Linked DNA regions of Homo sapiens. The protein of the gene in region 3 purifies or fractionates together with the protein of the main gene of each other region. This does not show direct contact. Each region holds a gene or a part of one and is shown on either strand. Other genes may lie near its edges.

Evidence for each region.
Region 1: the proteins of TSFM (region 3) and CARS2 fractionate together in Homo sapiens (co-fractionation; one large-scale study listed by BioGRID). This does not show direct contact.
Region 2: the proteins of TSFM (region 3) and MINPP1 fractionate together in Homo sapiens (co-fractionation; one large-scale study listed by BioGRID). This does not show direct contact.
Region 4: the proteins of TSFM (region 3) and CLIC4 fractionate together in Homo sapiens (co-fractionation; one large-scale study listed by BioGRID). This does not show direct contact.
Region 5: the proteins of TSFM (region 3) and ARMC1 fractionate together in Homo sapiens (co-fractionation; one large-scale study listed by BioGRID). This does not show direct contact.
Region 6: the proteins of TSFM (region 3) and MRRF fractionate together in Homo sapiens (co-fractionation; one large-scale study listed by BioGRID). This does not show direct contact.
Region 7: the proteins of TSFM (region 3) and PNPT1 fractionate together in Homo sapiens (co-fractionation; one large-scale study listed by BioGRID). This does not show direct contact.

The regions. Positions count from the first base shown.
Region 1 is NC_000013.11:110,664,617-110,668,116, forward strand, and holds part of CARS2 (probable cysteine--tRNA ligase, mitochondrial), read right to left. Parts: intron 2,858-3,500; coding exon 2,724-2,857; intron 2,313-2,723; coding exon of another isoform or gene 2,155-2,312; exon of another isoform or gene 912-2,154; intron 1-911. UniProt on the Homo sapiens protein: Mitochondrial cysteine-specific aminoacyl-tRNA synthetase that catalyzes the ATP-dependent ligation of cysteine to tRNA(Cys). In addition to its role as an aminoacyl-tRNA synthetase, has also cysteine persulfide synthase activity.
Region 2 is NC_000010.11:87,507,893-87,511,392, reverse strand, and holds part of MINPP1 (multiple inositol polyphosphate phosphatase 1 isoform 1 precursor), read right to left. Parts: exon of another isoform or gene 3,189-3,500; coding exon of another isoform or gene 3,155-3,188; intron 3,058-3,154; coding exon 2,860-3,057; intron 1-2,859. UniProt on the Homo sapiens protein: Multiple inositol polyphosphate phosphatase that hydrolyzes 1D-myo-inositol 1,3,4,5,6-pentakisphosphate (InsP5[2OH]) and 1D-myo-inositol hexakisphosphate (InsP6) to a range of less phosphorylated inositol phosphates.
Region 3 is NC_000012.12:57,795,437-57,798,087, reverse strand, and holds the end of TSFM (elongation factor Ts, mitochondrial isoform 2 precursor), read right to left. Parts: intron 1,912-2,651; coding exon 1,505-1,911; 3' UTR 501-1,504; downstream 1-500. Other genes in the region: AVIL (advillin), read left to right, coding at 93-206. UniProt on the Homo sapiens protein: Associates with the EF-Tu.GDP complex and induces the exchange of GDP to GTP. It remains bound to the aminoacyl-tRNA.EF-Tu.GTP complex up to the GTP hydrolysis stage on the ribosome.
Region 4 is NC_000001.11:24,800,947-24,804,446, reverse strand, and holds part of CLIC4 (chloride intracellular channel protein 4), read right to left. Parts: intron 1-3,500. UniProt on the Homo sapiens protein: In the soluble state, catalyzes glutaredoxin-like thiol disulfide exchange reactions with reduced glutathione as electron donor. Can insert into membranes and form voltage-dependent multi-ion conductive channels.
Region 5 is NC_000008.11:65,624,178-65,627,677, forward strand, and holds part of ARMC1 (armadillo repeat-containing protein 1), read right to left. Parts: intron 3,257-3,500; 5' UTR 3,222-3,256; coding exon 3,039-3,221; intron 1-3,038.
Region 6 is NC_000009.12:122,309,882-122,313,381, reverse strand, and holds part of MRRF (ribosome-recycling factor, mitochondrial isoform 1 precursor), read right to left. Parts: intron 156-3,500; coding exon 1-155. UniProt on the Homo sapiens protein: Responsible for the disassembly of ribosomes from messenger RNA at the termination of mitochondrial protein biosynthesis. Acts in collaboration with GFM2. Promotes mitochondrial ribosome recycling by dissolution of intersubunit contacts.
Region 7 is NC_000002.12:55,645,345-55,648,844, forward strand, and holds part of PNPT1 (polyribonucleotide nucleotidyltransferase 1, mitochondrial precursor), read right to left. Parts: intron 2,110-3,500; coding exon 2,003-2,109; exon of another isoform or gene 1,929-2,002; intron 1,143-1,928; coding exon 1,071-1,142; intron 979-1,070; coding exon 915-978; intron 89-914; coding exon 5-88; intron 1-4. UniProt on the Homo sapiens protein: RNA-binding protein implicated in numerous RNA metabolic processes. Catalyzes the phosphorolysis of single-stranded polyribonucleotides processively in the 3'-to-5' direction. Mitochondrial intermembrane factor with RNA-processing exoribonulease activity.

The DNA.
Region 1 (3,500 bases), on a different chromosome or scaffold from region 3:
CACCAAGCACGATTCTGATTTTTTAAAATTGATGATAGTTGGAAAATAAAACACATTTGCTAAGGCCTGAATGTTTATGTCCTCCCAAATTCCTGTCAAAATCCTCAGCCCTCAGGTGACGGTAACTGAAGGCAGGGCCTGTGGGAGGTGATGAGGTCACAGGGGCAGAGCCAGTGTGAATGGAATCAGTGCTCTCATAACAGAGGCCCCTCGAGAGCTGACGGCCGTCTACAAATGGGAAGCAGGCCCTCCCGAGACACCGAGTCTGCCAGTGCGCTGACGCAGGACTCCCAGCCAGCAGAACTGTGAGGAATTCATTGCTGTTGTTCATAACACGCCCGCTTTCAGTTTGGCTATAGCAGCCCTAACAGGCTGGGATAGTGTCTGCCCACTTAGCTCTTCCATCCACTGGGTACAGGAGAACAGGTGTCACTTCTCCTGCGTCAGGAGACACTGATGTTTTGTTTGGGGCCAAACTAGTATGAAAAAGATCGCTGGTATCTTAACAGGTAGTAAAAAATCACTGAAAAATAGCCACAAAACTTTCCCACCACGTGCAGTGGCTCACGCCTATAATCCCAGCACTTTGGGAGGCAGAGGTGGCAGATCACTTGAGGTCAGGGGTTTGAGCCCAGCCTGGCCAACATGGTGAAACCCTGCTTCTACTAAAAATACAAAAATTAGCTGGGTATGGTGGTATGCACCTGTAGTCGCAGCTACTAGAACAGCTGAGGCAGGAGAATTGCTTGAACCCAGGAGGCAGAGGTTGCGGTGAGCTCAGATAGTGCCACTGCACTCCCAGGCTGGGGGACGGAGCGAAATTGTTTCAACAACAACAGCAAATGCTTTCCCATTCCCACATCGGAAGGTGAACACGACCTCCGTTTCTAGACCCGGCCCCTCCTCATTACCTGACAGGACGAAGCGTTGGCACAGCTAAGGCTGCCCTTCTTGCCCCCCAGCTCCACACTCGCAGAAGGGCTCACAGCAGGTCATGGTTGTCAGTAACAAACCCTGACCTACTGAACAGGATAAACCTGCAGACAGAAACGTGCCTGCGGAGGGAGCAACTCCAGCTCCTCAGACAGTTCAGGGAGCGCTGAACTGAGCCCTGAACGAAGTCAACGAGGAAGTGACTTCGGGGCAATCAGCCTCATCTATTTACTTTCATGAAGAAACCCAAGTGAACCCTGCTGCGGACCAGAAAACCGGAGCACTTCTGCATTTAATGTCACCTTACTGTGACATCTTAATTTCCCAATTCAAGGGTTTCAAAAACTAGTATTTGTTAATTTCCTGTATTTCAGATGTCAAAGTTTGCATCTCCAAATCTATCACTACCAAACACTCTTTATCTTTCTTCATCTGGGACAAGGGACACGACTACCTCTGTGCCTGAGACACAGTGTCTCAGCCCCACTATCTGGGCTCCCAGCACGCTTCCTCTCCAAGAACACAATTCAGAAGTCCTTGGGCCACGGAAGAGAGACCTCCTTCCCCATGGTCAAAAGTGGAGTGCAGGCCCCCGGCTGTGGAAATCAGTGCTCGGCTCCCTGAGGGGCGATGCCTTAAATATTCCACCACTGGGCAGCGTGCACCCCCTTCCCATGTGAGCGCCAGCTGAAACGGAAGTGAGGGCGGCAGGCGTTTGTTCTGATTAGAAACTCCACCGACACCGGAATAAAGTGGATTTCAGCTAGTGCTGAGCCCTCCCCAGGGAAATGGTATGGGGTGCTGGACAACAGCTCCTAAGTCCTCAAACAGCCACGCAGCCAGCTTTGTTTCTGCTTCATTTTTAGACAAAAACTGGGGCACTGTGAGAGGCAGACATAGTAGGTAATGGTAGGGGCAGAGCCGCCTGCTGGGTTCCCCGACTCAACAGGGTAAGCCCGGGGTGAAGGACATGCTGCAGGAAGTGACTTCGGGGCAATCAGCCTCATGTACTTTCACGAAGAAACCCAAGTGAACTCTGCTGCGGACCAGAAAACCAGAGCACTTCTGCACTTAATGTCACTTTACTGTGACATCCTAATTTCCCAATTCAAGGACTTCAAAAGATAGTATTTGTTAATTTTCTGTATTTTAGATGTCGAAGTTTGCATCTCCAAATCCTATCACTACCAAACACTCTTTATCTTTCTTCATCTCAAATACCTTAGCTGTCCATCCCCAAAAGGTAATAAGACTAGTTAATCGTGACCCTGTAAACTTGGAAATACGACTCTTCCAGTGCATCCAAGTGAATTCCAAAACTGCTGGGTTCGAGGTGTTGCTTAACTCATGGTGTTGCATCCACTTCTGAGAGCAGACAGCTGGGGTTCATCAGTTAGGTGTTTGAACAGTGGAAGAAAGGGCAATGTTATTAGAAGATGGCAGAGATGTCTAGTGACAACATTATAGCTTCAGAAAGGATGTTCATAATTATCGTTACATTGTACTACTTCAAGTTCCTTCTTAATAGTTTTACTTGAAAGAAACCTTATATAGAACAGCATTGCCAAACATTTTCCATATTCTAGTCAGTTCCAAAAAGGTATAATCATTGCTGCAATCCAAGGAAGCTCATGTTCAAATGATTGAAACTCAAAAATAATTTAAGAGGCAAATCCATTTCTTGACCTATTAGCTGATCTACTATGTATTTCCAAATGTAGCTGTTCCGCCGACAAAGACAGAACTGCTAGAATTGAAACAGAACAAATTAATCTGAAGTTATTACTTACCAGAATGCAGAAAATAATTTCCCCACTGCTCGCACTGATGAAAGACTTCGCACTGTGCAATTTCGTTTTCATGATGTGGAAAAGCTAAATCTATCCCACCTGAATGGATATCCAGTTGACTTCCAAATACCATACTGCAAGACACAGTGCAAAGTAGTGAATTCATTCAATCAAGCAACATATTTTCTTCTAACCTCGTCTATTTATTCCTTCCAGCCTTTTTAATTCAATGAATAAATGGATCTCAGTTTTGCATCAATTTGCATGATAATTTAACTGATTCAAATGAAAACTGAAATCCTGTCATCACAAGCCCGTAATTCATGACTTTTCATCCTAGTAAAGGCACTTAATTCTTTTTGCTCCAGGTTCTTTTTTTCTCTTTTTCTTTCTTTCTTTTTCAACTCAAAAAATTACCTTTACTTACTTTCAATAGGTAGAGTTTAGTGGTTTTCCAATTTTAACAAGAGATGGAACTATAAAATCATGACAGTGTTTCATTTGGCTTTTGCAAGTGTAACTAACAGTCACCTACGAATAACAAGGTAAGAGAGTTCAAAGCAACACAGGTTGCCATTTCTCCTACAGTGCTGTGCCATGCCTCCATAAAAACCGCGTTTCTGCAAACCCATACAAAAAAATTAATGGGGTTGATGGGGGAAATGAGGCTGGGCCAGCCCACTCGAAGCTCTGTCCCTGGACCAGCTGCAGAAGCATGGCGACGCAGCAGGCCGGTGGATTTTCTTAAAATGATAGATAGAGAAATTTCTAAGGTGC
Region 2 (3,500 bases), on a different chromosome or scaffold from region 3:
AAAACATAATAATCTTGCGGTGGGAGGATTCCTAGACAAAATACAACACTCAGAAGCCATAATGAAGAGACAGATATGGCTATGTAAAAGATGTAAACTTCTGTGCAATCAAAGGCACCATCAACAAACCTAAGAGATAAGCAAGAAATTAAAATATTAGCAACATACAACAAGCAAAGGGCGAATCCTTTGTCAGGCAGAATTAAAAGATATAATTAATATATCCATAATACATAAAAGGTATTTGTGATTCATAAGAAAACAAAAATAACCCAATAGAAAATGAACAAAATTATGAAGGGGTAATTTTTAGAAGAAATGCAAATGGCTACTAAACATGAAAATATGTTCACTTTCAGAAGTAATCAAAGAACTGCAAATTAAAGCTAGATACTATTTTTCATTAATCAAATTGGCGAAAATTAAAATGACTAATAATATCTACTGTTGGAAGATATGGGAAAATGAACATTCTCATATACTGTGGATATAAATTTTTACTACACCTTCAGAGAACAATTTAAAAATATATGTCAAGATGTAAAATATTCATGTGTGTTAACCCAGCAATTTCACCTATTTATCTTTAAAAAACATTTTTAGAAATCTATTTATTTATTTGGAGACCAAGTTATAAGACTGGCTAACTTTTGTGTCTTTGATAGAGGCAGGGTTTCACCATGTTGCCAAGGCTGGTCTTGAACTCCTGGGCTCCAGTGATCCACCCACCTTGGCCTCCCAAAGTGCTGGGATTATAGGTTATGCCACGGCACTCGGCCTCACCTATTTTATCTTACAAATAAACTCTCAAGTGTAAAAAACAGACTACAAGAATGTTCACTGTAGCATTACCTGAAAGAGTTAAAAACTAAGAAAAACTTCAGTAGGAAAATGGTTTCTATAAAAAGAATTTGGACTGCATTAGCAACAGCCTCTTACAGCAGTAAAATTCGATGATGGGTTAAACAATTTAACTAGCATTGACTTACAAATCGAGTCATTCATATGTCCCATGAAATAACACAGGATTTAAAAGAATGAGACAGTTCTATATTTGTCTAGAGACAAATATATTGTTAAGTAAAAATAGTAAGTTACTGAAAATACATATAGCATCACCCCCTATGTAAACAAAAGGGTATTTAAATAGCAAAAGTATTTATTGCGCAATTACTGCGCCAGGTACTAAATGCTTTGTATGAATTAATCTTATATAATCTTTGCAATAATCCTATAAGACAAGAATAATTCCCATGTTCATTTTACAGAAAAGGAAACTGTGGCATAAAGACATTAATAAACTTGTCAAAAATCATAGTTATTCAATAGGATAGTAGAGTCAAGATTCAAATGCAAATAGTCCAATTCCAGAATCCATTATTTTAACCACTATACTTAATACTGCTTCCAAAAAGAAGTTGCTGTCAGTTACTTCATCAGTAAAATACATAATTCTTGCCCATTCAGAGACTAAACATAGTTTTAAAAAATCTTTTTCAACAACCTAACTGCCTACTAACAGAATAATGGCTAGATATTGGTATAGATGTAGAATGAAATACATACATTTAAAATGTAGGACTAGAATTGCAAACATTACATCAAAAACAAAAAGTTGCATAAAAATAGAATTTTGGACTGGTATAAACTTTGATACCACTCTTAAAAGTTTTAAAATCTGCAAAACAATATCCCATTTATGTATAAAACTGGCATGGGATAATATAAATGCTCAATTCATGACAACAATTACCACTGGTGAGAAAGGAAGAAGAATGGGATCCAGGAAAGGGACCAGTAGACCTCAATTTATTTAAGGCAAGTAACTGAAGCACAAAGTTAAAATTTAGTAAAACCAAGTTGTGGGTATAGGGATGTTCACCACATTAGCCTTTTTTGTTATCTTCGTGTTTGAATTATTTCCCAATAAAGTAAATAATTTTTAAAGCTCCACAGGCGATGCCAATGTACTGCCAGTTTGGAGAGAGAGAAAAAATTCAATTTCAAATGCTAGTCTAGGCATCTTCTTTTTGATCCTTATAAAGCATCCAGGCCCTGTGACTGATAAATTCTAATCTATTTTTTCCCCAACATCTACTTCCAGTCTTTTGGAAATTAATTCAGAGTATAATGTAATCTACAATCTTTGCATGTATCTTTGTCAACATCTACCCTATGGAACATAAATTCCTAGAAAACAGAAAAAAATCTTATTTTCTTAATCTCCCATTGCTAGGTGACCATGTGCCATGGTTTCCCACCTGCTTTCCTGGCAAAATTATTAATAGTGTTCCCTTTCACTTTCGAAAGTGTCCCACCAGTTTGGATGGTAAGTTGCATAGTCAGCCCATCCACTGCAATAACTTATGATAGACATGACTGCTCATCTTCTCAGCATTGCTACATATAACTCAAAAAACATCATAGTACTTTGCTTTTCACTTTCTAAAACTTACCCCTCTTACACATTAACAGGTACTTTTGAACTGCTTCAAAAGCTAAAGAATTTATATGATTTTTCCATTTGTATCACTTTATCAGGGGGAAATTCAGAAAAGATAATTTGTTTTAAAAATAATGCCTACAGTTGAGGCTTTATATTACTCTGCCCTCAAAAAAACTCCAGAATATAACTAGAATCTTGTACAGTAATTTAAATAACACTCAAAGAAGAATATGAATCTAAAAATGGTAAATAGTAAGCACAAGGTATACAATTTTTTTGACCCAGAACATATTATTTTCTTAATGTAGATCAATTATGGGTCTTTAAAAAAGACTGTTTCCTTATGTTTTCATTTTCACAGTTCAAAATTATTTAAACTGTTAAGTTCAAATAAAAGACAACAGACATATTACCTGCATTTAAATCATTTACTGGCACTTGCAAAGTAGCTGCAACTTTTTTTAAAATGTTCTGCATTTCTGGTCCAGTTTTGAAGGCTTCCACGTGATAAAGAGCTGTAGCATTTTTTTCTACTTCAGTTAAAAACTTCTCACAGTGATCAAAAAATCTCATTAGTTTATCATTAACTGTTGGAGGTCCAAACTCCATATCTGAAAGAGAAAAAAATTTATATGTATTTGTAAATCACTGACATAAATGACAGTTTCAAATTATTGAAAATGTTAAGTGTGAAAAAGGAACACTAACATCTTACTAATCCGCACAGCTGAAATAAGCACATATTGGTCAGGAAACTCTTGGGGTAAAATTATTCCCCATTTATAATGGCTGTAACGCATGAGAATAGCTAGAAAAGGCTAAAGAAATAGAGATTGAAGATTAAATGTGTTGTAGAGATGCTACGCAATGAAATTGCATCATACATTAATAAGTACTGTTTCTGTCAGGCACGGAAAACTTTAGAAAGCAAACTAAAAATCAGCAAAGTTTCTACTTACAAGGTGAGAGAGAATTCAACATATGGAATCTATTTTTTCACTCTAAGCCAAAGTCTAAACAGAGTATTTTATTTTCTCAATTAACCTTCCCAACT
Region 3 (2,651 bases):
CCTAGAACTCCCTCTTGCTCCAACTTCCTCAACTTCTGTTGGCAATGATGTCATGTCTTCCTTCTAACTAGAAACTTTGTTTTCTCTCTTAGAATTACCTCTCTGAACAGGACTTTGTGTCTGTGTTTGGCATCACAAGAGGGCAATTTGCAGCTCTGCCTGGCTGGAAACAGCTCCAAATGAAGAAAGAAAAGGGGCTTTTCTAAAGCAAGAAGGCCTATACCTATTGCAAGGCCACAGAAAAGAGCAGATAGTGCCAATATCAGGAAATAATTTATCCACCAATTTCTGCCTGACATTCAGCTACTTAATTTAGATATAATAGAGTCTGCAAATCACGGCATGTTCTCCATTTTTTCTCATCCTTGCATTCCTTGCTTGTTATATACCTAAAATGTTAACCATATAGTTTTTGGGTTTTGTGGCCCTCTAGCTAAAGCCTCAGCAGAAAGCACTAAAACTGCATAAATCTGGAGAAATCAAAAGAAAGAGAACCAAAAAACAATGCTTAAAATGTTTAATAACTTTATGTTTAATATTATACCAGGACCTACCTTTGTTTTCAATTTTAAGATGATTATTTCTAAAATCTATTTAGCCTGTAAATCATTGAAATCATATATGCACTCCATAGGCAAAATCCAAATACCCAGATCTGTAATGTGTCAAAGCATTTTTCACTTTTCAAATAAAGATACCTATAATGAACAAATGGAGTTATTTTCAGTATTCTGGGTCTGCTTGTTACGGTAATTTTATGTTATACTTGAAGAAATGTTTCAGTACTGGGGAAGTAAAGAGGCAATGTTAAGTGAGCTCTCTGGGTAACTGGACTACTCTAATTTCTGTTTCTGGCACAAGAATGTCAAAATCTGCCTTACAGCTGGCCAGGAAACCTCAGTACCCACCCACCCACACATCATCCAAAAGAGAAATAGGGGCATGTGTTATTAATTTCATTAAATGAGGCCAGAACCAGTGTGTCTACCACTGCAGAGCACCTTCAAAGCATACTACAGACAATCACAAAGAAGAGAACCCACATTTTCCAGACAACTCTAGGTTTGAATCAATAATCCTAAAGAAATCCATGTGGCACAAGTAATATAACTAGGGAGGTTCCGAGGCAGAAGCACGGTTCACAGTGTCGCAAAGCAAAAACAGAACAAAAGAGTTCTATGTCATAAAAGGTGTAAGACAGAACATATAAGTTAGAAATTTCAGAAATACCATAATAAATCTATGTTGAAGGGAGCAGCAGTATTGTTGATGCCTGTTCTCCACGACACTATCACGTCAATAAGGCCCACCTGTTGTTTTTGAAAGGCACAGAAAAGCTAAATCCAGTATTACGCAAACAAGGAAAAAATTATTTTTATTATACAACTATTTAATAATTTTACCCATGCATTCTCGGTCTGAAGAGGTTTGGGAAATATTCCTTTTTGTAATGATGTCCAGAGCTAAAAGTAAATATTCCTCCTGGGCCAAAAGTCTCTGGAACCTATTCAGTTTCTGCTGCCTCTTCACCTTCTCCACATTCAAACCGCACAAAGTCTACTACCGACACCCCCTGAGGCTGCACATACTGCCCCAAGGTAATGGAGGGATCCAGCAAATACGGCTGGGACAGCATCTTAGTCTCTGCCTCTCCCCCAGGCTCATCGTCCAGGGAGCCAACAGAGAGGGGGGCCATGCCCACCACATGCTGCCCAAGGCGGCGGCCAACGTCTTCAAGGTTTGTTTTCTGTTCAGACGTCTCACAGATGACCAGGGCCCCATACTTCCCCAGCACCAGCTTGTGAAGTGAGGGACTCTGCATTGCTCCGTGGACATAAGAGCCAACGTAGAACCCAGATGGCACCTTCACCCATGCAGCTCGTTTAAGAATCATGTTTTCTCCCAGTTTTCCTATTAAAGCAAAAACAAAAAACCAACACACCAACAAATTGTGATGTCTGTGATGGTACCAAAATATGCACAGAAGAGGCCCAGTTTGGAAGACAGTCCCTTTGCATTTACATAGGATATGCAGTAAGATGAAGAGATACCATTTTCAGTTTTTGTAGAAAGAGGAAAAGGGGTATGGGGCAGGAGAGCGGGAGTGGGGGAAGTGAAGAATACCTTTATGAAGCACCAACTATGTGCCAGGCACTCTGGTACTTAAAAACAGGCCGGGTGTAGTGGCTCACGTCTGTAATCCCAGCACTTTGGGAGGCTGAAGCGGGTAGATCACCTGAGGTCAGGAATTCAAGACCAGCCTGGCCAACATGGATGAAACCCTGTTTCTACTAAAAATACAAAAATCAGCTGGGCGTGGTGGTGTGCACCTGTAATCCCAACTAATCAGGAGGCTGAGGCAGGAGAATCACTTGAACCCAGGAAGCGGAGGTTGCAGTGAGCCGAGATCGTACCATTGCAGTCCATCCTGGGAACAAGACTCTCTCCAAAAACAAAAAAAACAAAAAAAACAACAAACATAGGTTGTATAGGTTGTGGTGACACAAGTATGTGTGACTCAGGTCTCAGTTCTGCCTATTTACTGACTATATGACCTCGGGCAAGTGACTCAATGACATAATCTCATTTACTAAATTTATCAAGCCTTTGTTTCCTCACCTTTAAAATAGAGATGACACCACCTACCTTTC
Region 4 (3,500 bases), on a different chromosome or scaffold from region 3:
CATACACACACACCCCCACCACCCACCTACCCACACACACCCCCTCCACCCACCCACCCACACACATGCACACACATACACACACCCCCCACACACACAGTGGGTACACATGTGATTCTGAATGCAGTCATAAAGCACAATTATCTTGAATTGGACTGTTCTAACAAGTGCTTCATGTAGCTCAAGTCAACTTTACAAAGGGGAAAAATGGAGTCTGACTTTCCTGTCTGGACAGCAGCAGGAAATAGATGATGTCTCTGAAAGACAGGCTTATCTCATTCCATTTAGTCTCTTGGCATGTGTCATTCATGCTGCTGCTACTGAAGATCATGGAAGTTGAAATGATTTCTTAAGTTACTGAAGACTGTTTTCAGAAAGGTGGAACCACAGAGACATGATCATGAAGATAAAACTATCTGAAGAGTCTATTTGGGAATCAGATTTTTTTCTGAGTTTCTAACTGCCTTTTAAGATATGCAGAACTATCAGTTTCATAGTTCCATTGTAACATTTTAAACTATTACAAAAGTGAAGTTTTTTTCCCTTTTCTCCTGATTTTAAATATAAGGTAACTAACTCCAAGGAAGATGAGGCAGCTCGCCCCAGGTCCCAGTGAAATCAGTGATAGAGCTCTCTCCATACACAGCTAGGTCTCACTCCTGAAATTTTCTATACTATGCCATGGTTGTTTCCCAACTGATGACATGCCAGAACATCTTTAACTCTGCCCCAATTTTAGTATTTTCACTTATATTATCTGAAGCTTTTGTTCAAATCGTTGATGTAAATTGAAATTCTTTGTGAAGCCTGGGCCCTTTTTTTTCTATCTAAACGTTCTTTAAATTGCAATATGAACAGAAAATTAGATTTGGAAATGACTCCCACCAAAGCACGAAGGCTGCTCTGGCAGGCAAGTAATGGGAGATTGTTCACAGCCTCACAAGGGACACATGAATACTACCAGCATAGTCATTAATGCCAACTGAGATTCAAAGAGAACATGTCATACAGTGCCAGAACTAGAAATGGGCTTGTTCTTATGGATGAAATGTCATGTAACAATCATTTTTTTCAAATCATAGAGTGAGCTGCTAAGTAACTCTCAGAGGAGTTCTATTGTTCTCCACTGGTTTGTTCTGGAGTCAGTACTTCTCACCAAGATATTAGGCAATTACCAGGAAAAGCAGGAAAATAAGCACTGTAGGCATATTTTCTCCCCCAAGATTTCTAAAAAGAGTCACATTTAATGTTTTAAGATTAAGAATATATTATGAAAAGTACTACAGGGATGTTTTATTCCTCTGTGATAACTTTCATATATACTGGTGGGTTGTTTGTTTTTGTTTTTTGAACCAATGCTCACTTTCTTGAGGTACTTTCTCTTTAAAATTTTGTTCAAGACTGCAAGTGTGTAAACTCATAGAAAAGATTTGGACGAGGCCAGGCACAGTGGCTAAAGTCTGTAATCCCAGCACTTTGGGAGACCAAGGCCAGAGGACTGCTTGAGCCCAGGAGTTCAAGACCAGCCTGGGCAACACAGGGAGACCCTGTCTCTTAAAAATAAAAAATTAGCCAGGTATGGCAGTAAATGCCTGTAGTCCTAGCTACTTGGGAGGCTGAGGCTGGAGGATTACTTGAGCCCAGGAGCTCAAGGCTACAGAGTAAGCTGTGATCGTGCCACTGCACTCCAGCCTCGGTGACAGAGGCAGACCGTGTCTCAAAAAAAAAAAAAAAAGAAAAAGAAAAAAGGAAAAGATTTGGAAGAATAAAGACCAAACCTAAAATAAATTATCTCTCTGAAGGGGAAGTTGATGACTAGGGGGTAGGGATGGTACAGACTCATTATCACGTACTACTTGCTTAGTTTTAGTTGCCCTAAGAAGCATTTTTTATATTTACTGGAGACCTATGATTGTTAAAGACCAAAAAATATAAGCTTCAATTTTAAGTGCTCTCTACCATTGATTTTACATAAAGCCCTAGGTAATAAACATATATCTTCTTTGATATTTTCTAATTATAAGGCCCTGAATGCCTACCTCCCATGCGCCACTTTTTATATATATAAACACTTAACATATACACTTACACATATTTCCACATACACACTTTAACATATATATACAAATCTGCAAATATCAATCAACCTATAGGAATAATGCCTTTAAAAAATCTGCAAATGAAAAGAAACAGACAACTCTGAAATAGCTATAATGGGTTTACTTCCTTTTCTGACCCAGATTCCCATGTTTATGGCACTATTACTGGTATGTATCACAATTAAAGCACTGTATTAAACTATTCAATGACAGCTTTTTCAAAGAATGGCAGTCAACTCACTTGCTCCAAGCCAAAAATGGAATAGGAGAAATTCATGTATTTTAGGACACAGTAAGGGTGTGTGCCTGGTGGCACACTCTATTTTTAGGAGTTATATTGGGAAACTTGCTTTGTGTACACATGTATAAAAAAAAAACAGTAATAGAAGGGTAACTACATGACTTATTTCATTCTTACATCTCTGCCCAACATGAATAAGGTAATGTCTTCCCAAGAGCTTGTAGTTTTAACTCACTATTCCCAAAGGCTTATTTCTACATTTATATACATAACTAAAGGGGTTCCTTGATGACTTTATGGCTTATGTTCAATAAATTTTAAAGTCTGTAAAATTTCAAATATATGCACTAGCAGTAAGTAAAAATGTATTTTAAGGGAATGACAGAAATCTGAGTACACTAACCTAGAACTTGGAATGGAATTATAGCTCTCAGGTAACTATCAGCATGTGATGCTCAGAGGGATAACATAGATTAATTCTGCCACTTTATCAAGTGATAGGCTGTCAATATCTTTTCCTGGACACTGTTCATGACTTGATATATAATATGGTTTAAATTTCTGTCCTTGCCCAAATCTCATATCAAATTGTAATTTTCAATGGTGGAAGAGGGGCCTTGTGGGAGGTGACTGGATCACAAGGGCAGACTTCCCTTGCTGTTCCTGTGACAGAGAGTGAGTTCTCACAAGATCTGGTTGTTTAAAAATATGTAACACCTCCCCCTTCTCTCTTCTTCCTTCTCCGGCCATGAAAGACATGTCTGCTTCCCCTTTGACTTCTATCATACTTGTAAGTCTCCTGAGGCCTCCCCAGACAAGTTTCCTGTACAACCTGCAGAACTGCCAGTCAATTAAACCTCTTTTCTTTATGAATTACCCAGTCTCAGGTAGTTCTTTATAGCAATGTGAGAACAGACTAATAGTTTTAAAAATCAGTATAATAGCAAATCATGTTGTGACACTTGCATCAAGAGGAATCCACTGCCAAACCCTAGTTTTTCCCATTAATACAACTATTCTTTTTTTTTTTTTTAATTTATTTTTTTATTGATAATTCTTGGGTGTTTCTCACAGAGGGGGATTTGGCAGGGTCATGGGACAATAGTGGAGGGAAGGTCAGCAGATAAACAAGTGAACAAAGGTCTCTGGTTTTCCTAGGC
Region 5 (3,500 bases), on a different chromosome or scaffold from region 3:
GAAATGTAAAAATGAAGGTAAATATAAAAGACCTTTTTTTGCTAGGCATGGTGGCTCACGCCTATAATCTCAGTACCTTGGGAAGCTGAGGGGGGCAGATCACCTGAACTCAGGAGTTCAAGACCAGCCTGGCCAACATGGCGAAACCCTGTCTCTACTAAAAATACAAAAATTAGCCAGGCATGCTGACATGCACCTGTAATCTCAGCTGCTAGGGAGGCTGAGGCAGAAGAATCATTTGAACCCGGGAGGCAGAGGTTGCAGTGAGCTGAGATTGCGCCACTGCACTCCAGCCTAGGTGACAGAGCAAGACTCCATCTCAAAAAAAAAAAAAGACATTTTTAAATTTTTAATCTCTTTAAAAGATAATTGACTGTTTAAGGCAAAAATATATACACTGTAGGTTTTTAAACATATGTAGAAGTAAAATGTATGACAAAAATAGCACAAAAGATGGGAGAAAGAAATGGAAATATACTCTTGTGTGATTCTTACACTACATGTTAAGGGTATGATTCATTTAAAGGTAGGCTGTAAGAAGTTAAAGATGCATATTGTAAAACCTACAGCAACCACTAAATAAATTAAAATAAAAACAAAAGTGTATACTAATAAGCTAACAGTGACGAAAAAAGGAAATCATAAAAACAACACACCCAATGGCCAGGCATGGTGGCTCACACCTGTAATTTCAGCACTTTGAGAGGCCAAGACAGGCAGATCACCTGAGGTCATGAGTTCGAGACTAGCCTGGCCAACATGGTGAAAAACCGTCTCTACTAAAAATACAAAAATTAGCCACATGTGATGGTGCGGGCCTGTAATTCTAGCTACTCAGAAGGCTGAGGCAGGAGAATCGCTTGAACCCAGGAGGCGGAGGTTGCAGTGAGCCAAGATTGTGCCATTGCTCTCCAGCCTGGGTGGCAAGAGCAAAAACTCTGTCTCAAAAACAACAACAAAAAAATCTTTTCTTCAGCCTCTTGGGAACTTTCACTCACTGATCCCTCTCCTTAGCTCTGTCCCTCCATGACTTTATACTTCCCTTCCTATTCAGCCTAGTATCTACTGTATATCATTTCAACCAATCCTGCCAAGATCCTAAACTCCCTTGCACAATCATTCTGCCCAACTTAACCTGGCCAAGTAACAACTCTAGACAAATCCAAGTACTTGGCTCTGTGAGCCTACAACAGGCCTGAATCATATCGATTCAGTATTACCAAACTAATCAGCCCTCAACACTGCTGAACAACTTTATCATTCTCCTCAGTTAGCAAATCTTTCCTATTTTCTGCAATTATGAGAGCCTTCCCCTCAAACCTCTCCCATTCTAGTAGCCCTTGCCCTCTGAACTTAGACATATTCTAGTCTATTTAAAAATAAAAAAGACTTACTTCCTTTAGCCCCAAGTCCCTATCTATAGATCAACCCCCTCTTTCTTCTCATCCTTCTTGCATTTCTTATTGAAATTGAACCCAGACTGGGGACTGTGCCATTTTTCCCATTTGTTACTACTGTTCTCTTACACCAATGTCTTTTTTGACTGCTAAACTTCATTCTGTAAAGGCAAAATAGAAATTTTTTTCCAAAAGGAAAAGTCTATATGCCTTCTGTACAAACTTGTGAAATTAGACTAAATGGGGAATCATCACGAGTCCTTAAGTAAAGGGCAATAGATAAAATTTCCAAAACATTAATTTTTTTAACAACTTTTTTTTTTTTTTTTTTGAGACGGAGTTTCACTCTTGTTGCCCAGGCTCGAGTGCAATGGCACAATCTTGGCTCACTGCAACCTCTGCCTCCTGGGTTCAAGGGATTCTCCTGCCTCAGCCTCCTGAGTAGCTGGGATTTCAGGCACCCACCACCACGCCCGGCTAATTGTTTTGTATTTTTAGTACAGACAGGGTTTCACTACGTTGGCCAAGCTGGTGTCAAACTCCTGACCTCAGGTGATCCACCCACCTCGGCCTCCCAAAGTGCTAGGATTACAGGAGTGAGCCACCACGTCTGGCCCTATTTATATGCAAAATATATAGGCATTTTTGCCAGAATAGGCAAATATAGACATACAAAAAGTAGATTAGTAGTTGCTTAGGGACAGGGAGTGTTGGGGTCTGGGAAGCAATAGATAAAAAGTTGTGGTGGGCCGGGCACAGTGGCTCACATCTGTAATCTAAGCACTTTGAGAGCTCGAGGTAGAAGAATCACTTGAGGCCAGGAGTTTGAGACCAGCCTAGTTAACATAGCTACATCCTATCTCTACTAAAAAAAAAAAAAAAAATTTATTTATAATAAATAAAAATAAAAAGTTGTGGTGATGGTGACACACAACTCTGTGAATATACTAAAATCACTTAATTGTATACTTTAAATGAGTGAATTATATGATGCTGTGTGCTTACATCTTAAAAAGCTGTTATAAAATAAAAACAAAATAAGTGCCTCTTTGAGTGTCTCTGTGTATGATATGATCCAATCCTCAAGATTGTTAAATGAAAAGGAAGTGGTAGGACATTCCATGCATGGAGTATGCAACAATTTGTATAAAAGAATAAAAACAAGGCTGGCCATGGTGACTCACAGCTGTAATTCCAACACTTTGGGAGGCCAAAGTGGAAGGATCACTTGAGCTCAGGAGTTTGAGCCTGGCCAACATGGCGAAACCCTATCTCTACAAAATATCAAAAATTTGGCTGGCATGGTGGTGTGTGCCTATCATCCCAGCTACTTGGGAGGCTGAGGTCGGGGGGATGGTTTAAGCCCAGGAGGTGGAGATTGCAGTGAACTAAGATCCTGCCACAGTGTACTCCAGGCCTAGATGACTCAAAAAAAAAAAAATAAAGAATAAAAACAATGTAGCATGTTACCACTGGTGTAAACAGACCACAGACCACACATACATATGTTTGTACCTACATAAATACAAACAACTAATTGCTCTCTTTCCGTTTTTTTACCTTGTCATCTAGCACTTTTTCCAAATTCTCACCTTAACTGCAAAAATAGAACAGAGATTGAAATTACTAAAGGCAACTTACAAGCAAAGCGGAGTGGACGACTGGAGGGTTGGGATGGTCCATAAATAAAATAAGGCCAGGCAGACATCCCTGATCCTGGACGATGGCTCTTCTGTTTAACGGATCTGCTGCTAGATCCCGTAACTGGTTAACTACCGATAGAGCGTCAGGCTCTTCACTCATGGTGGAAGTGGAAGAATTCATCTTCTATGCCATGCACATGAATAAAATCTTAAATTCTGTAGAAAAGGTTTGCAGAATTAGTTCTAGGCTGCTGAGGTATATTATAGCACTTGTGAAATAACCAGGATTACAACACCTTTAGAAAGAATCAGGTAACTAAAACTAAATCACATAAAAACTTAGAAATCGGCAACTCTACAGTTTGAGAAAAGTAAAATGAACGTAAGACGACTGAAAAAATTTGTGTGCACAATGTTTAAAGAACATATGTTGTCCTCAATATTCCAATAAATTATGTTT
Region 6 (3,500 bases), on a different chromosome or scaffold from region 3:
TCTCTATTAGCCTAATGGTGTCCTCTGAGACTGTATCCTTGGATTTCTTCAGCTTGTTCATTGAGTTGGTGCGAACCTTCCGTAAAGAGTCTTTGGCCTTGTTGGTGTTCTGTTTGGCCAGTTTCACCAGCATTTCTCTGTGCTCTCTGGTTACTCTGATAAAAGACAAAAGACATTCAACAAAATCATTCTATACATTAACTGCTGGCCAAGAATTTAACATCACTCTGTCAACCAGTTCAGCAGTTTGTAACTTTCCTCTCTGTGGGCTGAACTCCTGGAATTTCCAGGAGGAGGAAAACGCATGTATAAAGGCTTTAAGTTGCCCAAACATGGGCAAACTGGGTTTGACTTTGTAGAAGGTACCAAACTTCCCAGTGAGAGAACTGGGATTCAAATCCCAATATTTCTGGCCTGTATTCTTTCTGCTACTCTTCTAATCTATTTCAAGTAAATCATGCACTGCTGCCATTACTTCTGCTTCCAGGCAGAAAGCTCTTCACAGTCAGTAATATGAAGCTTGGGACTGAAAAGGACAAAACCATCAAGAGCCCATGCTTCATTTAAGGAATTGGCTGGAGCACTGATAACAAAGAAAGGAGTGACAAGAAAAGAGGCTGGGAAGCCATATCACAGACAGTCTTGCAAGGTCACGAACCACGTTTTACAGATGAAGAAAATGAGGCCCAAAGAAATTTGGTACCTTATACAAAGTCAGACCCAGTCAAACCCAAGCTGGCCTGTCACAAAAGCCAATGGTCTTAGTATGACAGCATTCCTCTGCCCCCTGGGTCCTGAAATGGACATGCTTATGCTTCCTTACTCTCAAATCAACACGGTTCTTGCTCAAGGAAGGACAATCCTAAGTTCTGGGTACATGTTCAGTGTGGAATAGTGATGAGCAGCTGTTAAAGATTTAGTAACATCTACCTTACATTTTCTCTGCTGAGAAAAAAAATTAAAGAATTTTGAGAAAGAATAAGCTCTGAAGTGAACAGTTGTATTTACGTAAATCCTTTTGGATTCAGCTATTTGAAGGTATTCTCAAAACAACAATGAGTCTAATTACTACTATTATTAAACCGTTCTATGCCACATGAGTACTTTAAGTGTGTTACTTCATTGAATCCTCACAACTCTTCAAATGAGGAAACAGGCTCACAGATGTTAAGTGACTTGCCCATGAGCATGAGTGAGAGAACTGGGATTCAAACCCCGATCTTTCTGGCCTGTATTCTTTTTACTCTTGTAATCTATTTCAAGTAAATTATGCACTGCTGCCATTACTTCTGCTTCCAGGCAGAAAGCTCTTCAAAGTCAGTAATATGAAGCTTGGGACTAAAAAGCACAAAACCACCATGTCAGGAGTTTAGGGATTTGGATCAGATCTTGTTACTTTTATGGTTTTTAATTCATTGAACAAAAATCATGCTGACATGTTTAGGTCTCTTTTTTGTTCTGCCAAAGCATATGTCAGTATAAGGAAGGAACAGGAAAATTAAAACTTGATCCACTGATTCAAGAACTTAATCCTGCTGAAATACTAAGAGGGGCAGAAAATAAATGAATCTAAGTCTTTAAGAAACCTCATAAACTTCTCCAAAAAGAACATACTGAAGTATTTCAATATTGCATTTCACATAATTTCAAATAGGTATCTCACTGTTTAGAAAATGCTTAATCAAAGAAAAAAAATTATCTGATCAACTTTTCTTTTCACTACAATGTTATATTTTAAATGGAGGAAAAAACATACATTAAAAAATATAAAATGAGACTCAAAAAAATCTTAAGAATTAAAGGCTACAGAAAGAAAACAAAATCATAATATAGGTAATTTGGCCTTAATAAAATGTATTACTTTGTATTTATTAATGCAAATGTGACATTACCACACTATTAACACCAGTTTCCACATGTAATCGTGTCCAATCACTGACATTGTCAAAAATATTTCCATTTCAGGATGCAAAGAGGCAATAATCAAAAAGATACTACAAGGAAATGGAGAGTGGAGTGCAGTGAGAAGGGAGAAAGGGAGGGAGGAAGACAAACCATGCTGGACACAGGGAGGGCTGAGGGGGAGAAGGGCATGTGTGTGCTGGTTCAGGGTACTGAGCTGAAAGGTATCTAAAATACAAGATCAGAAGCAGTTAGGGTGATGGCAAGGCACTGGTTTTGAAGTCAGACAGACTAGGTTCATACCTGTATCTATTGCTCAGAAGCTGACTATCCTTGGGCAAGTTACTTAATCTCTGTGAGCCTCAGTTTCCTTATCTCTAAAATGAAGATTTAAAAAGACACCTTACAGGAGGATTAGGAGAAGCAGACACAACAGATAAAGTACCAATAAAGAGAGCAGCATATATAGTAGCCTTGAATAAATGATAGTGTTTATGAATGTTTTAATCAAACATGTTTAATTACTTCCTCATGAAACAATGAGGGCATATCTGTTTTAGAAAATAAACATATTTTATTATGGAAATATTTTCATTCTTTTCCAAATGTGATTAATACATCTGATCATCTCCACCTTGCATTCCTGGGTTTCTGTGAGTATGCACTAGAGTTTGTATTCCAGGCTTCTGAACTCAGCTGGTTAGTTCTGAGTACCCACTTTAAGTTGATGTGCATTCACCCATCAAGCACTGACTGAGCCTCCTACGCTCTGTGCCAGTTCTTGGGCCAGACCAAGGAGCTCCAGAAGAGGCAGACCTGGCCCACCTTTTCCAGAGGCTCAGACTAGTGGTGGAGACAAACTTGTCAGCCACTACGTAGAAAGAGGATGACTGTTGCTAGTATCTACTGCGGAAGGAGCATACAGAAAACACAACACTTCTATCTTGAGATTTGGAAACCGCCTTATGGATGCACAGTAACTTGTTAGCTGCAGAAGAATGCAAAGTGCATTTTGGGAAGCACAGTGGGAGATGTAGTGGAGGGACAGCATGAAGCTGAAAAGGGTACATCCCAGTCAAATATACTCTACAGGCCTGGAGTTTTCAAATTCTTCTTTAGCCACAAACCCCTGGCTCCAAAGAAAACTGAGGCAGAGGCCCCATTTGCAAAACAGATAAAAAGAGACTACTTCAGTTGATGAGGAGGAGCGGTGGGCTCTATCCCAGGCTACAAAACTCAGATCCGACCCCACTTCTGGGCCTGCCACTTACAAGCTGAGTGACCCTATGCAAGTTATTTAAACCGTCTGAGCCTTGCTCTTCTCATTTGGAAACAGAAATTAAAAACAAACAAATGAAACAGAACCTCCCTTTCAGAGTTATTGTGAGATTTAGATGAGGTAATACATGGGAAGCATCCAGTACAAGGCCTGATAGAGAATAAACACTCAGGAAATGTAAACTGTCTCTGCTGCTGTTGTTGGTTACATTTTTGGAAGCCCTGAAGCATCTTCAAATAATGAAAGTTTTTAATCAACAGAGGAATGACAGAGCAAAGATCTATGCTATGGCAAGATGACTTTTTGAGATCTCACTGGT
Region 7 (3,500 bases), on a different chromosome or scaffold from region 3:
TTACCTACAACAGGTCCATTTTCTTTTCTAGATGCTCGAGGTTTTGAAATAGTTTTGTTCATGATCTGTAATATCTCCTTTTTTGCCACTAGAAGAGAAAAACACAAAAATTATAACTACATAAAACAAATATGATCTGAAATACTGTACTCTTAGTTTTCACGGTATACAATCTAAACCCTGTAGCTTAATAATTGAAGCTTTCCACATCCCTATTACCTTGAAAATTCACTCATATTCTCTTCTCCAAAAATCCCATCTTAAATAGAGTTGTTTAATTTGTAAAAATTGAAATTTCACTGGTAACCCACTTTGGCGTGTATTCATGTGTCCCAAAAACTTAGTTGTGCTTCTTCTTTTTTTAAAATAGATATGGGATCTCACTACGTTGCCCAGGCTGGTCTTGAACTCCTGGGGCTCAAGCAATCTTCCTGCCTTGGCCTCCCAAAGTGCTAGGATGAGCCACCATGCCATGCCTGGCTACTTAGTACTTCTTTTTTTTTGAGACATTTTCCCTCTGTCACCCAGGCTGGCGCGCAATGGCATGATCTCGGCTCACTGTAACCTCTGCCTCCTGGGCTCAAGCGATTCTCTTGTCTCAGCCTCCTGAGTAGCTGGGATTACAGGTATGCACCACCATGCCCGGCTAATTTTTGTACTTTTAGTAGAGACAGGGTTTCACCATGTTGGCCAGGCTGGTCTCGAACTCCTGACCTGAAGTGATCTGCCTGCCTCGGCCTCTCAAAGTGCTGGGATTACAGACATGAGCCACCACACCTGGCCAGTACTTCTTGATCTAAGTTATATGAAATTCCACTTTTTAAAGCAATATTTTATAATAAGCCTAATGAGAACTATAGTTCCCATTAGCAAAGTGGAAAAGAATGAAGGGAGAATCAAGCACACTAGCTCACCTGAAGCTTGTTGAATAGCCTCCATCACAATTTTTATTGGTATTCCAGGTAATTTAATATCAGCCTAATATGGAAAAGTCAAACAATTATATAAATATTGACTCATGGCATTATTTAAATGTTACAAAAATGAAACAAAATGGGTTTTAAAAATACCTGTAATGCAGTTATTCCTTTATTAGTGCCAGCTATTTTGAAGTCCATGTCACCATTGTAATCTTCAATTCCCTTCAGGAATTTAAAAAGTTATGACATAGTTTTAAACAAAAACAAAAGTCAACATATTCACTGTAGAAACATTTCAAAAAACAGCTTTAGAAGTAAACCATATCCTAAGTCCAAACACAAAGCAATGTTTTCTACATTAACTACCACTTCCAATTTGTGACTTTTTAAGCTACAATTATTTTCACCAGAAACATCATTTTATTTTTAGATCATTCCTTTCCCTCATAAATGCCTGAGAATGAATTTATGCTCATCCTAAAGTGAGTCATTATGAATACTTACACTGTGTAAGTATTACTGCAATACTTAAGGGTAAGTATTACTATTTTTTTAAAGTAATCATTTTATTTTATTTTATTTTACTTATTTTGAGACACAGTCTTGCTCTGTTGCCCAGGATGGAGTGCAGTGGCACGATCTTGGCTCACTGCAACCTCTGCCTCCCGGGTTCAAGCAATTCTGCCTCAGCCTGCCAAGTAGATGGGATTACAGGTGTGTGCCACCATGCCCAGGCTAATTTTTGTATTTTTAGTAGAGATGGAGTTTTGCCACATTAGCCAGACTGGTCTGGAACTCCTGACTTCCCAAAGTGCTGGGATTACAGGCATGAGTCACTGTGCCTGGCCTATTACTATTAATATAATATCTATTTTAAATTCATATCCTATAAGATACAAGGTGAACATGCAGAGGAGGAAGGGAAGAACAAGTACCTGTTCTTCAAATACTAGCATTCTTCTAAGCATACGCTAGGTGCAAAGTACATATAGTCTTCACCATTATTTGTTTTTATCTTTTAATTTTTATTTATTTATTTTTAGTCTTCATTATTAAATATTTGAAACCGAGAATATACTTGCCAAAATATCTGTCAGCAAACGATAATCTTCTATTTCACCCTTCTCAGGATCGGTTTTGGTGACCAATCCTATTGCTACGCCTGCAACAGCAGATGAAATTGGAACCCCTATAATTGGGAAAAAGAACAACTGTGGGTAATGTGTACATGAGCCTAAAACAAATATTTATCTATCAATTTTTTTTTTTTTTTGAGAGGGAGTCTCGGTCTGTTGCCCAGACTGGAGTGCAGTGGCATGATCTTGGCTCACTGTAGCCTCTGCTTCCTGGGTTCAAGCAATCCTCCCACCTCAGCCTCCCCTATAGCTGGGATTATAGGCACCCGCCAACACGCCTAGCTAATTTGCTTGTATTTTTAGTGGAGATGGGGTTTCAACCATGTTGGCCCTGTTGGTCTTGAACTCCTGACCTCAGGTGATCTGCCAGCCTCAGCCTCCCAAAGCGCTGGGATTACAAGCGTGAGCCACCGCGCCCAGCAGACATTTACTTTTAATGTAAGTGGATATTGTTGCCTAAATTGACAATCACCGAAGCTGAGTTGGAAGTCTTAAGAGGTCATCTGACTACTTCGTTTGTTTTTGAACATATAATAAAGTTCCCTAAAACAATGTAAACAAGTACTATATCCAGCAAAAACTTCTCTAACAATAGCAAACTTTATAACTTTTAAATTATCCGTTGGTTTGCTTTTTTGCTTCAGGTGTCTTATTTTCTTTTTGTTGGAAAGTAAGCATCTATTTGGTAAATTCTTCCAGCCTGAACTCCTCAGTTTACCTCCCCATGGCAGCTAACATTAGTGTATCCTCCTAGAAAATTTCTGTGCACAAGTATAAATGTAAATATAATCTTTTGTTTTCTTTACTCGTGGCGGCAGACTGTATGCATTTACTGTTCTGCACCTTGCCTTTTTCACTTAATAACATGTCTTGGATATTGACACATACCACCACACAAAGCTCTACTTTATTCCTTTGAATAGTTTTAGTACTCCCTGTATGTTTTACAAGTCACACACAGAAGTGCGATTGCTGAGTCAAAAGGTATGTGCATTTACGTTTGTTAGACTGTCAAACTGCCTTCTAAAGACATAGCATTTTAAACTTTTACCAGTGGTGTAAGAAGGTATATGCTACTCTATATTCTTATTAATTCTTGTCAAATCTTTTGATTTTTCTCAATTTAAAGTGTAAAAAATGGTTATTTTAAATCTGACTTGTTTTTTATGACTGAGGTTGAAAACTATTTCATGTTCATAAACCTATTTATATGTCTTATTTTGAGAACTCCCTGTTCATGGCCTTCAACACTTTTCTACTTGGTTGGCAGTCTTTTTATTACTGATTTTCTTTCAATATGGACAGAGCTTTATTAAAATGTAAAGATAAAATATTATGTTTAATAACATATAAATAAAATATTTTATTTCCTAGTTCGTTGACTTTGCTTATGGTCATTAGTTTTCTGTGTAGGATTTTTAGTTTACGTAATCATGGTTTCTGG